Linked DNA regions of Homo sapiens: region 1 is linked to region 2. The links come from fine-mapping of genetic effects on gene expression. Tissue or cell type: whole blood. Region 2 holds a variant in brackets; the other region holds the start of a gene. All regions are shown on one strand. Distances are between the middles of the regions.

Region 1 (8,114 bases), 140 kb after region 2:
AATGTTCAAGGTAGAAGGATCGTTAAAGATAATTTAGTCCAACTTGACCCATATGGCATAGAGATATATGCAGATCTGCATGTCCAGTTCTGCAGCTAGAAACTGACACTGAGCTGAATTAAACCACACGGAGAAGAACTGAGAAATTTAAAGTAAAAGGTTAGGAAATTCGAATGTATATATATTCCAGAGGCCCAGTGTAACATGAAGAAAGTCAAGGAGAGGGACTCTTTCATCATGGAAGATCTGGGGGCAGAGGGACTTAAAAGGTGGGACAAGCCAAAGATGGTGACCTAGGGTGGTTTTTATGATATAACCTTTTTTCTCCTCATTCCCTATGAAATCTTCAGCCAATTCCATATTTCTCACTAATTCAAGTGAATATCTGGGGGGATGGCTTATGGAGGGAAATAAGGGAGCAATTGTTTGGATTATATTCCAATTTTTTATTTGCATTAGAATACCTATATGTTTATACATTTTTATTTGCATTAGAAATACTTATATAAGTTTATACACTTTCATTCTAACTTTTTTTGAGGGAAATGTATCTCCATAAGTGAATAAGAAGTTAAATTACTGATTATGTTTCAATTGGTTAGTTTGATGCTTAACAGTCTTTCACTTTTCCACTCTTGCATATTTTGTAGAGAGTAATACAAGCTCTTCATGATAGGAAGGATCTGCATATGTTTATTTTATAGTAGAAAAATGGTAAGATTTTCCTGTCCCCAATTTTCTCTCCAAACAAATCCAAATTTCTTGTATTTTGGAATGACTCTGGGTAAAGTGGTTGTTTATAGAAAGTCTCTTATAAAATATTGAGGATATTATTAGATATTATTACATTTCCATGAATATGTTTCCCTTTATCTTTAAGAGAAGAAGAGTCAGAAATATAACCTATCAGAGTGGGAGATGGCATAAAAGCTGGACTAAATGGATTGCTAGATGGAGGGCAAACCTGGTGTGAATGACTCAGTGAGAAGCTTCGGGAGTCCTGAGGGTAGCAGAAGGGTGCGGATTTAAAGTTACTGTTAGAGTGGCTGGAAAATGGGAGACCGGTTCAGAGACATTTTATCTACTTAAAAACTGTGCCTTTTGTATCACGTCAAAGTGAATGCAAAACAAAGAACAAAAGGGTTAAAGGCTCAGGTTTAAATCCCAGGTATATGTACATTTCAATTGAGGTATTTTTTTTTTCTTTTCTAAATGATCAGTACACTTATTCTTTCTAAAGAAAATACTTTTCTTAACTACTCTCTATTTTTAAACTTCTCCCACAAAGATGAGAAAACATTTAAAAATCATTGGGGCTATTTTTCTGTTTACCGAGTAAAGAGAATCTCTAAACCATATTTATAACTCTTACTCTAAATATTTGCATTTACCCTCATGCCAGAGCCCGTTGATGACTGACTAAACAGAGTTTCAAAGTTTGAAGAACAGGAAATTTAGAAATGACTAACAATTATGTAGGTTTATTTCTCTCAGTATAGAATGTTCATATAGAATTAATGCCAGAGGTTTTCAGAGAAAAATGCAGAAATTTTTACTTTGCAAATCCAGAAGATGCAATTGTTCAAGTATTTCTTAAGAAACATTAATTTTAAGTATGCAGATATCATTGAGAATTAAATATTTTAATTTCTAAACTATTAATCTTTTAGTAGGATGCACATATGCAAAATGCCTCATTAGTACTGTAAGAAAAGATTCTTGGCCGGGCGCGGTGGCTCATGACTGTAATCCCAGCACTTTGGGAGGCCGAGGTGGGCGGATGACGAGGTCAGGAGATCGAGACCACCCTGGCACACGGTGAAACCCCGTCTCTACTAAAGATACAAAAAATTAGCCGGGCGTGATGGCGGGCGCCTGTAGTCCCAGCTACTCGGGAGGCTGAGGCAGAAGAATGGCGTGAACTCGGGAGGCGGAGCTTGCAAGTGAGCCGAGATAGTGCCACTGCACTCCAGTCTGGGCGAAAGAGCGAGACTCCATCTCAAAAAAAAAAAAAAAAAAAGAAAAGATTCTTTTAGGTTTCATCAATTTTGTTTTAAAGCTAGGGCTCTTCATTAGATATAGGAAAATCAATTCAAAGTTTCTATTCAGTCATGATGAATTTGAGATTTTTTTAGGTTTCTTTGTATTTAACAATATATTACATTATAATGTTGTGGTGAAAACTAAATGGACTAATATTATTCTTTTCATTTGTTAAATGAAAAAGTATGCACAAAGTATATGTGAGAGTGACAAAGGCCTGAATTTGTCAATTAGTAACAATTGTATTCAACAGTAAGGATTTTATGTTTGGGTAGGCCTTTCCCAGGGACTTCTACAAGGAAAAAGCTAGAGTTGGTTACTGACTTCTAATAAATAATGCCTACAATTTCTAGGAAGTTAAAAGTTGACATAATTTATCCAAGAAAGAATTATTTTCTTAACTTAGAATAGTTTCTTTTTTCTTTTCAGATGTAGGTTTTTCTGGCTTTAGAAAAAATGCTTGTTTTTCTTCAATGGAAAATAGGCACACTTGTTTTATGTCTGTTCATCTGTAGTCAGAAAGACAAGTCTGGTATTTCCTTTCAGGACTCCCTTGAGTCATTAAAAAAAATCTTCCTATCTATCTATGTATCTATCATCCATCTAGCTTTGATTTTTTCCTCTTCTGTGCTTTATTAGTTAATTAGTACCCATTTCTGAAGAAGAAATAACATAAGATTATAGAAAATAATTTCTTTCATTGTAAGACTGAATAGAAAAAATTTTCTTTCATTATAAGACTGAGTAGAAAAAATAATACTTTGTTAGTCTCTGTGCCTCTATGTGCCATGAGGAAATTTGACTACTGGTTTTGACTGACTGAGTTATTTAATTAAGTAAAATAACTGGCTTAGTACTAATTATTGTTCTGTAGTATCAGAGAAAGTTGTTCTTCCTACTGGTTGAGCTCAGTAGTTCTTCATATTCTGAGCAAAAGGGCAGAGGTAGGATAGCTTTTCTGAGGTAGAGATAAGAACCTTGGGTAGGGAAGGAAGATTTATGAAATATTTAAAAAATTATTCTTCCTTCGCTTTGTTTTTAGACATAATGTTAAATTTATTTTGAAATTTAAAGCAACATAAAAGAACATGTGATTTTTCTACTTATTGAAAGAGAGAAAGGAAAAAAATATGAAACAGGGATGGAAAGAATCCTATGCCTGGTGAAGGTCAAGGGTTCTCATAACCTACAGAGAATTTGGGGTCAGCCTGTCCTATTGTATATTATGGCAAAGATAATCATCATCTCATTTGGGTCCATTTTCCTCTCCATCTCTGCTTAACTGAAGATCCCATGAGATATACTCACACTGAATCTAAATAGCCTATCTCAGGGCTTGAATCACATGTGGGCCACAGCAGGAATGGGAACATGGAATTTCTAAGTCCTATCTTACTTGTTATTGTTGCTATGTCTTTTTCTTAGTTTGCATCTGAGGCAACATCAGCTTTTTCAGACAGAATGGCTTTGGAATAGTAAAAAAGACACAGAAGCCCTAAAATATGTATGTATGTATATGTGTGTGTGCATGCGTGAGTACTTGTGTGTAAATTTTTCATTATCTATAGGTAAAAGCACACTTGGAATTAGCAATAGATGCAATTTGGGACTTAACTCTTTCAGTATGTCTTATTTCTAAGCAAAGTATTTAGTTTGGTTAGTAATTACTAAACACTGAGAACTAAATTGCAAACACCAAGAACTAAAATGTTCAAGTGGGAAATTACAGTTAAATACCATGGTAATGAATAAAAGGTACAAATCGTTTAAACTCTTATGTAAAATTTGATAAGATGTTTTACACAACTTTAATACATTGACAAGGTCTTGTGGAGAAAACAGTTCCAGATGGTAAATATACACAAGGGATTTAGTCAAACAATTTTTTGGCAAGAATATTATGAATTTTGTAATCGGTTGGCAGCCAATGAAATACAAAGATGAGTCTAGTTAATAATCTACAATTATTGGTTAAAGAAGTATATTAGTGCTAATTTCCCTCCGTTTGTCCTAGCTTTTCTCTTCTGTCAACCCCACACGCCTTTGGCACAATGAAGTGGGTAACCTTTATTTCCCTTCTTTTTCTCTTTAGCTCGGCTTATTCCAGGGGTGTGTTTCGTCGAGATGCACGTAAGAAATCCATTTTTCTATTGTTCAACTTTTATTCTATTTTCCCAGTAAAATAAAGTTTTAGTAAACTCTGCATCTTTAAAGAATTATTTTGGCATTTATTTCTAAAATGGCATAGTATTTTGTATTTGTGAAGTCTTACAAGGTTATCTTATTAATAAAATTCAAACATCCTAGGTAAAAAAAAAAAAAGGTCAGAATTGTTTAGTGACTGTAATTTTCTTTTGCGCACTAAGGAAAGTGCAAAGTAACTTAGAGTGACTGAAACTTCACAGAATAGGGTTGAAGATTGAATTCATAACTATCCCAAAGACCTATCCATTGCACTATGCTTTATTTAAAAACCACAAAACCTGTGCTGTTGATCTCATAAATAGAACTTGTATTTATATTTATTTTCATTTTAGTCTGTCTTCTTGGTTGCTGTTGATAGACACTAAAAGAGTATTAGATATTATCTAAGTTTGAATATAAGGCTATAAATATTTAATAATTTTTAAAATAGTATTCTTGGTAATTGAATTATTCTTCTGTTTAAAGGCAGAAGAAATAATTGAACATCATCCTGAGTTTTTCTGTAGGAATCAGAGCCCAATATTTTGAAACAAATGCATAATCTAAGTCAAATGGAAAGAAATATAAAAAGTAACATTATTACTTCTTGTTTTCTTCAGTATTTAACAATCCTTTTTTTTCTTCCCTTGCCCAGACAAGAGTGAGGTTGCTCATCGGTTTAAAGATTTGGGAGAAGAAAATTTCAAAGCCTTGTAAGTTAAAATATTGATGAATCAAATTTAATGTTTCTAATAGTGTTGTTTATTATTCTAAAGTGCTTATATTTCCTTGTCATCAGGGTTCAGATTCTAAAACAGTGCTGCCTCGTAGAGTTTTCTGCGTTGAGGAAGATATTCTGTATCTGGGCTATCCAATAAGGTAGTCACTGGTCACATGGCTATTGAGTACTTCAAATATGACAAGTGCAACTGAGAAACAAAAACTTAAATTGTATTTAATTGTAGTTAATTTGAATGTATATAGTCACATGTGGCTAATGGCTACTGTATTGGACAGTACAGCTCTGGAACTTGCTTGGTGGAAAGGACTTTAATATAGGTTTCCTTTGGTGGCTTACCCACTAAATCTTCTTTACATAGCAAGCATTCCTGTGCTTAGTTGGGAATATTTAATTTTTTTTTTTTTTTAAGACAGGGTCTCGCTCTGTCGCCCAGGCTGGAGTGCAGTGGCGCAATCTCGGCTCACTGCAAACTCCGCCTCCCGGGTTCACGCCATTCTCCTGCCTCAGCCTCCCGAGTAGCTGGGACTACAGGCGCCCGCCATCACGCCCGGCTAATCTTTTGTATTTTTAGTAGAGATGGGGTTTCACCGTGTGCCAGGATGGTCTCAATCTCCTGACATCGTGATCTGCCCACCTCGGCCTCCCAAAGTGCTGGGATTACAGGAGTGAGCCACCGCGCCCGGCCTATTTAAATGTTTTTTAATCTAGTAAAAAATGAGAAAATTGTTTTTTTAAAAGTCTACCTAATCCTACAGGCTAATTAAAGACGTGTGTGGGGATCAGGTGCGGTGGTTCACACCTGTAATCCCAGCACTTTGGAAGGCTGATGCAGGAGGATTGCTTGAGCCCAGGAGTTCAAGACCAGCCTGGGCAAGTCTCTTTAAAAAAAACAAAACAAACAAACAAAAAAATTAGGCATGGTGGCACATGCCTGTAGTCCTAGCTACTTAGGAGGCTGACGTAGGAGGATCGTTTGGACCTGAGAGGTCAAGGCTACAGTGAGCCATGATTGTGCCACTGCACTCCAGCCTGGGTGACAGAGTGAGACTCTGTCTCAAAAAAGAAAAAGGAAATCTGTGGGGTTTGTTTTAGTTTTAAGTAATTCTAAGGACTTTAAAAATGCCTAGTCTTGACAATTAGATCTATTTGGCATACAATTTGCTTGCTTAATCTATGTGTGTGCATAGATCTACTGACACACGCATACATATAAACATTAGGGAACTACCATTCTCTTTGCGTAGGAAGCCACATATGCCTATCTAGGCCTCAGATCATACCTGATATGAATAGGCTTTCTGGATAATGGTGAAGAAGATGTATAAAAGATAGAACCTATACCCATACATGATTTGTTCTCTAGCGTAGCAACCTGTTACATATTAAAGTTTTATTATACTACATTTTTCTACATCCTTTGTTTCAGGGTGTTGATTGCCTTTGCTCAGTATCTTCAGCAGTGTCCATTTGAAGATCATGTAAAATTAGTGAATGAAGTAACTGAATTTGCAAAAACATGTGTTGCTGATGAGTCAGCTGAAAATTGTGACAAATCACTTGTAAGTACATTCTAATTGTGGAGATTCTTTCTTCTGTTTGAAGTAATCCCAAGCATTTCAAAGGAATTTTTTTTAAGTTTTCTCAATTATTATTAAGTGTCCTGATTTGTAAGAAACACTAAAAAGTTGCTCATAGACTGATAAGCCATTGTTTCTTTTGTGATAGAGATGCTTTAGCTATGTCCACAGTTTTAAAATCATTTCTTTATTGAGACCAAACACAACAGTCATGGTGTATTTAAATGGCAATTTGTCATTTATAAACACCTCTTTTTAAAATTTGAGGTTTGGTTTCTTTTTGTAGAGGCTAATAGGGATATGATAGCATGTATTTATTTATTTATTTATCTTATTTTATTATAGTAAGAACCCTTAACATGAGATCTACCCTGTTATATTTTTAAGTGTACAATCCATTATTGTTAACTACGGGTACACTGTTGTATAGCTTACTCATCTTGCTGTATTAAAACTTTGTGCCCATTGATTAGTAACCCCTCGTTTCGTCCTCCCCCAGCCACTGGCAACCAGCATTATACTCTTTGATTCTATGAGTTTGACTACTTTAGCTACCTTATATAAGTGGTATTATGTACTGTTTATCTTTTTATGACTGACTTATTTCCCTTAGCATAGTGCATTCAAAGTCCAACCATGTTGTTGCCTATTGCAGAATTTCCTTCTTTTCAAGGCTGAATAATATTCCAGTGCATGTGTGTACCACATTTTCTTTATCCATTAATTTGTTGATTGATAGACATTTAGGTTGGTTTTCTACATCTTGACTATCATGAATAGTGTTGCAATGAACACAGGAGAGCTACTATCTCTTAGAGATGATATCATGGTTTTTATCATCAGAAAACACCCACTGATTTCTATGCTAATTTTGTTACCTGGGTGGAATAATAGTACAGCTATATATTCCTCATTTTAGATATCTTTGTATTTCTACATACAATAAAAAAGCAGAGTACTTAGTCATGTTGAAGAACTTTAAACTTTTAGTATTTCCAGATCAATCTTCAAAACAAGGACAGGTTTATCTTTCTCTCACCACTCAATCTATATATACCTCTTGTGGGCAAGGCCAGTTTTTATCACTGGAGCCTTTCCCCTTTTTATTATGTACCTCTCCCTCACAGCAGAGTCAGGACTTTAACTTTACACAATACTATGGCTCTACATATGAAATCTTAAAAATACATAAAAATTAATAAATTCTGTCTAGAGTAGTATATTTTCCCTGGGGTTACAGTTACTTTCATAATAAAAATTAGAGATAAGGAAAGGACTCATTTATTGGAAAGTGATTTTAGGTAACATTTCTGGAAGAAAAATGTCTATATCTTAATAGTCACTTAATATATGATGGATTGTGTTACTCCTCAGTTTTCAATGGCATATACTAAAACATGGCCCTCTAAAAAGGGGGCAAATGAAATGAGAAACTCTCTGAATGTTTTTCTCCCCTAGGTGAATTCACCTGCTGCTTAGAAGCTTATTTTCTCTTGATTTCTGTTATAATGATTGCTCTTACCCTTTAGTTTTAAGTTTCAAAATAGGAGTCATATAACTTTCCTTAA
Region 2 (8,114 bases):
TTGACTTTTATAAGACTTCTAATAAAAAAAAAAAAAAAACTAGAAGAGGTCTTGAGTATAGTTACCCTTGAGATTAAGTCCTGCAACAAAGATCAGGAAAAGGGTTTGGTCTTTCCATTCAAAGTCATTATTTTAGATGGCTTCAAGATAGCTACGATAAAGGTCTAAAGGAACTGGCATAGGAGCAAGGCAGCAAAGCAGTAAATTAGGCTTGATAATTATGTAAGAAAGAACTTTGGGTGTAGTTACCAGAAGCAAATCAATCAGAAGACTACATTTTTAGAGGAATTTTATTAATCATACTAAATCTGGCTCAAATATCATTGTTCGGGTGTTAAAACAGAGGGTAACTGTCCAACCCCAAGCTTGCATAAGTAGAAAAATAGAGCATAAAACCTTAACAGCTCCCCAGTACCCACACAGGATGTGGCCATGGAGAATGATGGACAAAAAAAGAACATTTCAGAAGCTCGTATAAGGAGCTGTACTAAAGACTGGACAGGGAGTTTCTCCTGAAGACTAGAATTGGAGTTTCATCAGAACTTTCTTCAGTTTCAAGGAGATGGGCCGCAAAATGTTTATGCAGTATTTCATCATTATTATACATGAATAGTATTGCTCAGTATCACATTTTTTTTCTGAATGAGAGAATGTATTATAGTTATCTGTCCCTGAGTTACCACTATATATTGGGTTTGCAGGGATGGGGGTGACAATAAAGATAATTTGTCTTTTTAGTTCTTAGGTCACATCTGTACCTAATGAAGAGAACTGCACATTTTCTGAAAATCCTAGACTTTGAGCCTGTTCCAGTAACTGGTTAAAACTTTAGATTGTCTCCTTTGGGACAGGGTATGTTCTGTGTGTGGAAAGACAGGTAAAATACATGTTTAGTGATCAGAATAGTAGATTCTTGCAAATGCTAAATTCTTCTGGCCACACAGCTATATTTCCATGCCTCTCTTGCAATTAGGTATATGGGTTAGGTGTGCTGATTAGGTTCTAACCAGTGGAATGTGAGAAGTGATGCACTCCTATTCCAGCTCTGGCCTATGGAAACATCACATGAGCAATCCAATATATCCCACTCCCCATCAACTTGAGGCAGATGAGCAAATTTGCACTGGAAACTATGTGTTAAAGATGGCAAAGCCGCAAGATAGGACTCCTGGTTTCCTGAATCTTCACTTGGAGGATACTTGCTTCCCAATTAGAGACACTTGTGCTAGAGTTTCCTGACTCTTCACTGGGAGGATACTTGCTTGCCAATTAGGGACACTTGTGCTACAGCTCATACGCATTCTTTTGTGTTAGGCCACTGAGATTTCAGAGCGTGCCCTAATAAAGACCTGTCCCTCTTTCTCCAGATGCAATCGTTCATTACCTAATTCTAATTTTTATACCACAGGAGTAGGCCCACAAATCAGGCTAGCCAAAGTATCCTATCATTCAGCCATAGTGATTAGTTCAGGAATGGGCAGATTAACAAAACTGAAGTTAATCAGAGATAGTCTTATCATTTGGGCTAGCACTATCAAGAAAAAGACACCTGCTTCTGGAATAAGCAAAAAAAAAAAAAAAAAAAAACACAAGCTACATCTGGCCTTTGGTCATCATGTCGAGTGAACCTGCCTAAGAATGAAATCTTACAGGGAAACAGAGGCAGTCTCAATGATACTGCAGAAGGGGAAGATATCCCATGAATTGAGAAATATTTCCTGGGTTTCTACTCGATTGAAATTCCAAGAGGTAAGGGATAGATACTGCCAGGAAGACTTGGGAATTCAAAAGAGGAGCTCTCTGAGACTAGAGTCACATCCTGACACGGCTCTTCTCCAATGTGCTGGAGTCCTCAGCATCTGCTGGTCTTGATTCACTGATGGGGGCAACCAGTGTCCCCTTAAGTGTCCGGGCAGAAACATACTGTACCTTGGTTTTAGAAAGTAGGTTGGCAGGCATCTTTCCTCATTCCCATCAAGGAGTTGGTACCTTCCACAGTGTAAGTTATTTTCTCTGTTCTAGAGCTACTACAAAGTGCTAGGGAAGGAAAATCTCCTAAAGCAGTCTGTCATCATGAAGGCCAAATTATGTAGCAGAAGAGCTTGGAAAAAGATTAAGACGGTGGTGGGGAGGACCTTTGTCCTGGTGGCTTGAAGCCATAGGGAAAGAGGTTCACTAAATGCCAACAAATGCTAAAAAATAAAAAAATAGACAAAACAGCGAGCCAGTGGCTTGTGCTCTGCTTTCCACCTGAAAGTTTGCCCAACATAAGCAATTATAATCAAGTAGAAATTGAAGCATATGTTTAAGCAGAGAGGACCAGGTAACATTGATAACCACTGTCCTCCCAGCCACTGCCTTAATTAGGCTTTCATGAGTTTTCACCCACATTATTGCAATAGTCAATCTCCCTGCCTCTGATCCTATTATACTCTACTTTATCCTCCACATTGACACCTGAGTTACTTCTCTACCTTGTAAAAACAATTTATTTCTGAGTACAAAAACACTACATGTTCATTGTAAAATACTAAGAAAATACAAAAAAGCACACATACCAGAACATGCAATTCTATCATCTAGAGATATCCACTGTTGACATTTTAGTACAAACCTTTACACAGTTGTTTTCTCTGTGTATTTTTAAATGAGAATGCCACTGTTGTATTTAGCATGCTTTTTAAAATTTTTTATTTATTTTTATTTTTCAATCCACCAGTAAGATATCCCGGAGCATGCTTTTTTTTTTTTTTAAACTTAGTATATGTGAGCATTTTCTCATGGAATTAAATGCCCTCTACAATATTATATATAATTAATATATCAATTTACTTAAGACAGGTGTTGCAAACTGGCAGCCTATAGCCAAATGTGATATATGAACATGCTATATACTTTGTCATTACAGCATTTCAGAGTTGTTTGACTTTTGAATGCCTTTATACAATGCATGCTGTCTTCAATTCTCTACAGTTTCCATAAATTCCTATTATGCCCAGTCCTTATTCACTCATGTCACCTATCTTTTTTTGTTGTTGTTACTGTTTCGGTGTGGGCTTTTAAGAAATTTTTGACATTTGAGTTGAAAACAGCAATTTAGCCAGAATAAGCATGGATGTTCATTCACTTAGTATTTGTTGCCTACCTGCTACATACCAGGCACTGGGTTAGGTGAGAAAATGGTTAGCAAAACAAACACGGTTCTTTCTATCTTGAAGCTTATGGTCTAGCATGAGAGACACACAAATGAAATAACTGCTGCAAGGGAAACCTGAGCTAGAAACTTTTGTTTTGTTTTGGGGCTTCCCTGAGGAAGTAATATGTGAACAGAGATCTATAGTAGGAAATAGGCCAAAAAGCAGAGAAGAATCTTCCTAGCCAAAGGAATGTATATGCAAAAGGCCTAAAAAAGGAGGTATCAAACTGTGCCAAAAGAGCTGAAACACTGAAAGTGAGAATGTTTGCAAGATGAGGCTGGAGAAGTAAGTGGAAGACAGATGATTCAGGGCCTGTGGACCATGCTAAGGGTTTTGAGATACATGTTGATAAAGAATCTACCCTAGTCTTCTTTTCCTTAGGGA[A/C]ACATCCTTCTCTTTTTAATCACTCCTTATATGGCATGATTTCGAAATCCCCTTCACCCTCTTACTACCCTTCTCTAGCATTAATAATTTTCTTAGTCCACTGCTCTGGAACCAGAGCCCAGTAAAAATTAGTTAAGCTGAAGGCTGGGGATGGCAGTCTAGCACAAATAGTAATTAACTACTGGGCACATTAGTAGAACAGAGCTGCTACCTAAATAAATCCATTTAAAGTCAACTAAATGTTATTTGGGTAATATGTCCCTCATGTTAAATTTGCCCAAATATATATCTCACCTCTTAAAATTCGTTTAGTTTGAAATTAAAATTAGTATTGTTTTTCTGCATGTACTCCTAGGTTGGGTAAAGAAGGGAACAAGGGAATGGGGAAACGTAGAGATTCCTGGATAACAGAGAAAGACAGCTTGAGAATAAAAGTATGCAAAAGATAATCTACAACAAAATAATGCACTTAACTCTTGTTACTAAACAAATAAGCTACCCACATTTTAGTTTTCTGTTTTGTTTTATGTTTGTCAGTTTAGCAATTTTTGTCACTGTTTGGAAGACTTAGAGTGGTTATTGCATAGAACAACTCCTTACACAGAGATTTGCAAGTTTCTGAATTTTGTACTTTCAAATTGAAAATCAGGAGAAACATTTTCAAGGTTCATATTCAGACCAAGTTAGTATATTAACAACTAATAACAATATTAAAAGTTAGAACAATTCCTTTCCTCTATCTTTCTCAGGACAAATCGAGTTTATTAGAAAACTAGGGAGTGATCTGGTGAAACTGGAAAGAATCCAAGGAGTTCCAGGGAAATCTTTCATTCATTCATTTGTAGATTATTCCACAAATGTTTATTAAGTATCTATGGTATTTATACAGCACCTACAGTACTATTTAGGGCACTGGGTATAGCTTACAAACTGCTTAACTCTGAATATCTTTTGTGCAAGGAATAAGTAGTATAATAGTCCCTTGAAATACAGGAATTCACCTAGAGATCTTCTCAGATCCTCAGATGTGCACGTTTTATATCATGTAACTTAATCCAGAAAATAAAGCATAAGCAAACTGATATTTTTACACAGCAATGAATTTTGAAAGCAGGCAGAGCTTCTAGTCTCATATAAGGGGCTTAGAACTTGCCACTGCATCCTAATAACAAGTAAAAAGCTGAACAAACAAAAATCAACAACTCTTCTTAACTTCATCAGAAATGAGGACACAGGGAAAACTGCTGCCCTCAAAATTGGAGAGACAGATAGGAAGATACAGGAAATCATAACCAGAGCAGAAACCTCTGGGAACCAGTGCTGGGGTAGGAAAACCTGAACTGTAATTGATGAAATGCTGAAGGCTCACTGTGGACAAGCCTGAGAGTCAAAAACTCCAGGGAAACCCAGTCATAGAGGAGCCCTCATACCTTTGTGAACTATACTTCCAGTAGGACTAGTATAGCATACTCACAAAGTGAACTCAGTTACGATGCCAGTTGCAGGTTGGGAAGTACTGGCCTACAGGAATCAGAGTCCATTTCTCCTAGTAAACAGAATACGTAGGTCCAAGAACAATGTAGGTGCAGTGTATGTACCTATTACTATTAGACCTAATGCCCAGGTTGACTATATAATTGACTACATGATTTATTGTCCAAATGGAGATACCTTTAAGAATAAAATGAAGCATCAATCAAATATACATAATGTTTAATAATATGTATGAGTTGACAAATTGGTTTTATTATATTGGTGAACCTATAAGATAGTTCTGTTTAAAAAATATTTTCAAGGGTGGGCACAGCAGCGCATGCCTGTAATCCCAGCAATCTGGGAGGCCAATGCGGGTGGATCACTTGAGGCCAGAAGTTGAGACTGGCCTGGCTAACATGGTGGAACCCAATCTCTACCAAAAATACAAAAATTAGCCGGGTGTCATGGTGCACACCTGTATTCCCAGCTGCTTGGGAGGCTGAGGCAGGAAAATCACTTGAACCTGGGAGGCGGAGGTTGCAGTGAGCCTAGATCACACCACTGCATTCCAGCCTGGATGACAGAACAAGACTCTGTCTCAAAAATTAATTAATTAATTAATTAAATAAAATATTTTCAAAAATAAATCTGGGTACACTAGAGAAAATTGAAAACAAACTGCTTAATACTGATTATCAATACATTAAAAAGTTACAACCATAATAAATTCTGTACATATTCATGTATTTTAATCATTGTCTTAACTGTATCTGTCTCATGTCATGTTACAGGTATATTTTACTTCTGAAGAATATATTTTTATATGATTATAATTTTTAATAAAAGTATCTCTAAACTTCCACATTTCATTTTACAGCTAATGAATTTAAAATTGCTGATGCCCTCAACTGACTCTTCTCAGTTACCTCAGTATTTTAATTTTGGAACATACTCTCTCTACAGGTTAATATAGGTATCTGGTAAACTCAGAGCAAATTATACCAAATGGAGTATATTCCCAATTCTGATTTTATCTTATTAAATATTTAAATATTTCAGCTCAAATGTTTTCAGTTATTGTCTTTTTTGCCTCCACTTAGAGGATCTTTGACAAATATTTTTATAAGACAAAGCTCATTAAGTTATCTCTGTTTTATGATTCCTTAAATGTTATATCAAATGTATGTATGTATATATGTATGTATTTGAGACAGAGTCTTGCTGTGTCACCCAGGCTGGAGTGCAGTGGCACGGTCTCAGCTCACTGCAACCTCCCCCTCCCAGGATGAAGCGATTCTCGTGCCTCAGCCTCCTGAGTAGCTGGCATTACAGGCATGCACTACCACATCCAGTACATTTTTATATTTTTAGTAGAGATGGGTTTTCACCACATTGGCCAGGCTGGTCTCAAACTCCTGGCCTTAAGTGATCCGCCTGCCTTGGCCTCCCAAAATGCTGAGATTACAGGTGTGAGCTACCACGCCTGGCCTTTTATGAAATTTATATAAATTTGATAATGAATAATAATAGGCATTTTTTTTACATTCTGGTACTGAATATAAATTTATCCAAGTAAAAATAGAAGCTCCACAAAAGAATCTTCTCAGAAGTCAACAGTATTTATTTCCTGTTGCTGTTGCAATAAATTGCATGATAGTGGCTTAAAACAACACAAATTTATAATCTTACAGTTCTGGAGGTCAGAAGTCTGAAATGGATTCCACTGGCTTAAATCAAGGTGTTGACAGGATTGCACTCCTTATCTAGACTCCAGGGCTGATTCTTTTTACTTTTTCTGGATCCTGGATGTTACCAGCATTCCTTGGCTGATGGCATCTGCCTCCATCTTACAGCGCATCACTGCAATCTCTGCTTCCATCATAACTTTGTCTCTGACTCTTCCGCCTTCCTCTTCCATCTTTTAAAGCCCCTTGTGATGACATTAGGTCTGCCTGCATAATGCAGGATAACTTTCCCATCTCAAGAGTCTTGTCTTAATCATATCTGCAAAGTCTCTTTGCCATGTATGGTCACATATTCATCCCGAGATTAGATTGTGACCAGGCATGCAGCCGGGCGAGGTGGCTCACGCCTGTAATCCCAGCACTTTGGGAGGCCGAGGCGGGCCGATCGCGAGGTCAGGAGATCGAGACCATGGTGAAACCCCGTCCCTACTGAAAATACAAAAAAAATTAGCCGGGCGCGGTGGCGGGCGCCTGTAGTCCCAGCTACTCGGAGAGGCTGAGGCAGGAGAATGGCGTGAACCCAGGAGGCAGAGCTTGCAGTGAGCCGAGATCGCGGCACTGCACTCCAGCCTGGGCGACAGAGCGAGACTCTGTCTCAAAAAAAAAAAAAAAAAGATTGCGACCAGGCATGCTTTCATATGATTGCTGGGTCACATGATAGATACATGTTTACCTTTTTAAAAGTGGGCAAAATATTTGAATAGACAATTCACTAAGTAAGCTATATGGCTGGAAAATAAACATATGAAATGATGCTCTACTATATACAGAAATATAATTAACTTTATATATCGATCTGGTATCTTGGAACCTTGCTAAACTCCTGTATTAGTTCTAGTAACTTATTTATGCACTCCATAGGATTTTCTTCACAGAAATCATGCCGTCTGTGAATGAAGGGAGTTATACTTCTTATTTTCCAAATGGAGATTTTATTTTTCTTGCATGACTTCACTGGCTAGAACCACTACTACAATGCTGATTAGAAGTGGTAAGATCGATATCCTTTCCTTGTTCCTGATCGTAAGTGTGATGTTAACTGTAGATTTTTCACATATACTGTTTATCAATATAAGGAAGTTCTCTTCTGTTCTCTGTTTTCTGACAGTTTTTGTCAGGCATGTATTTTGTATTTTCAAATACTGTTTCTGTATTTGTTGAGATAATCATAGGATTTTTCTTTCTTGTTTTTACAATGAGTTACACTGATTAACTTTTGAATATCAAACCAACCTTGTATTTTTGAGATAAACCCCACTTGGTCATGATGTATTATCCTTTTTGTATATTATTGTATTAGCTCTGCTAAAAT

Evidence for each region. PIP is the estimated chance that this variant, and not a neighbour inherited with it, causes the effect. A credible set is the group of variants that fine-mapping cannot tell apart.
Region 1: it holds the start of ALB, and the variant in region 2 is the best candidate, but not a certain one, in a credible set for the expression of ALB in whole blood (TOPMed, PIP 0.56).

Annotation. Positions count from the first base shown.
Region 1 is chr4:73,400,234-73,408,347 of GRCh38, forward strand. ALB (albumin) reads left to right here and starts at 4,054. Exons shown (of 15, transcript NM_000477.7): 1 at 4,054-4,173; 2 at 4,883-4,940; 3 at 6,396-6,528. The coding sequence starts at 4,095. RefSeq lists enhancers at 2,189-2,409, 3,682-3,721 and promoters at 2,948-4,109, 3,689-4,094.
Region 2 is chr4:73,262,161-73,270,274 of GRCh38, forward strand. The region is part of intron 1 of ANKRD17-DT (ANKRD17 divergent transcript); the gene reads left to right. It overlaps LOC124900180 (small nucleolar RNA SNORA3/SNORA45 family), which reads left to right and starts at 1,800; the gene lies at 1,800-1,924. The variant A/C (reference allele first, on the strand shown) is at 3,582.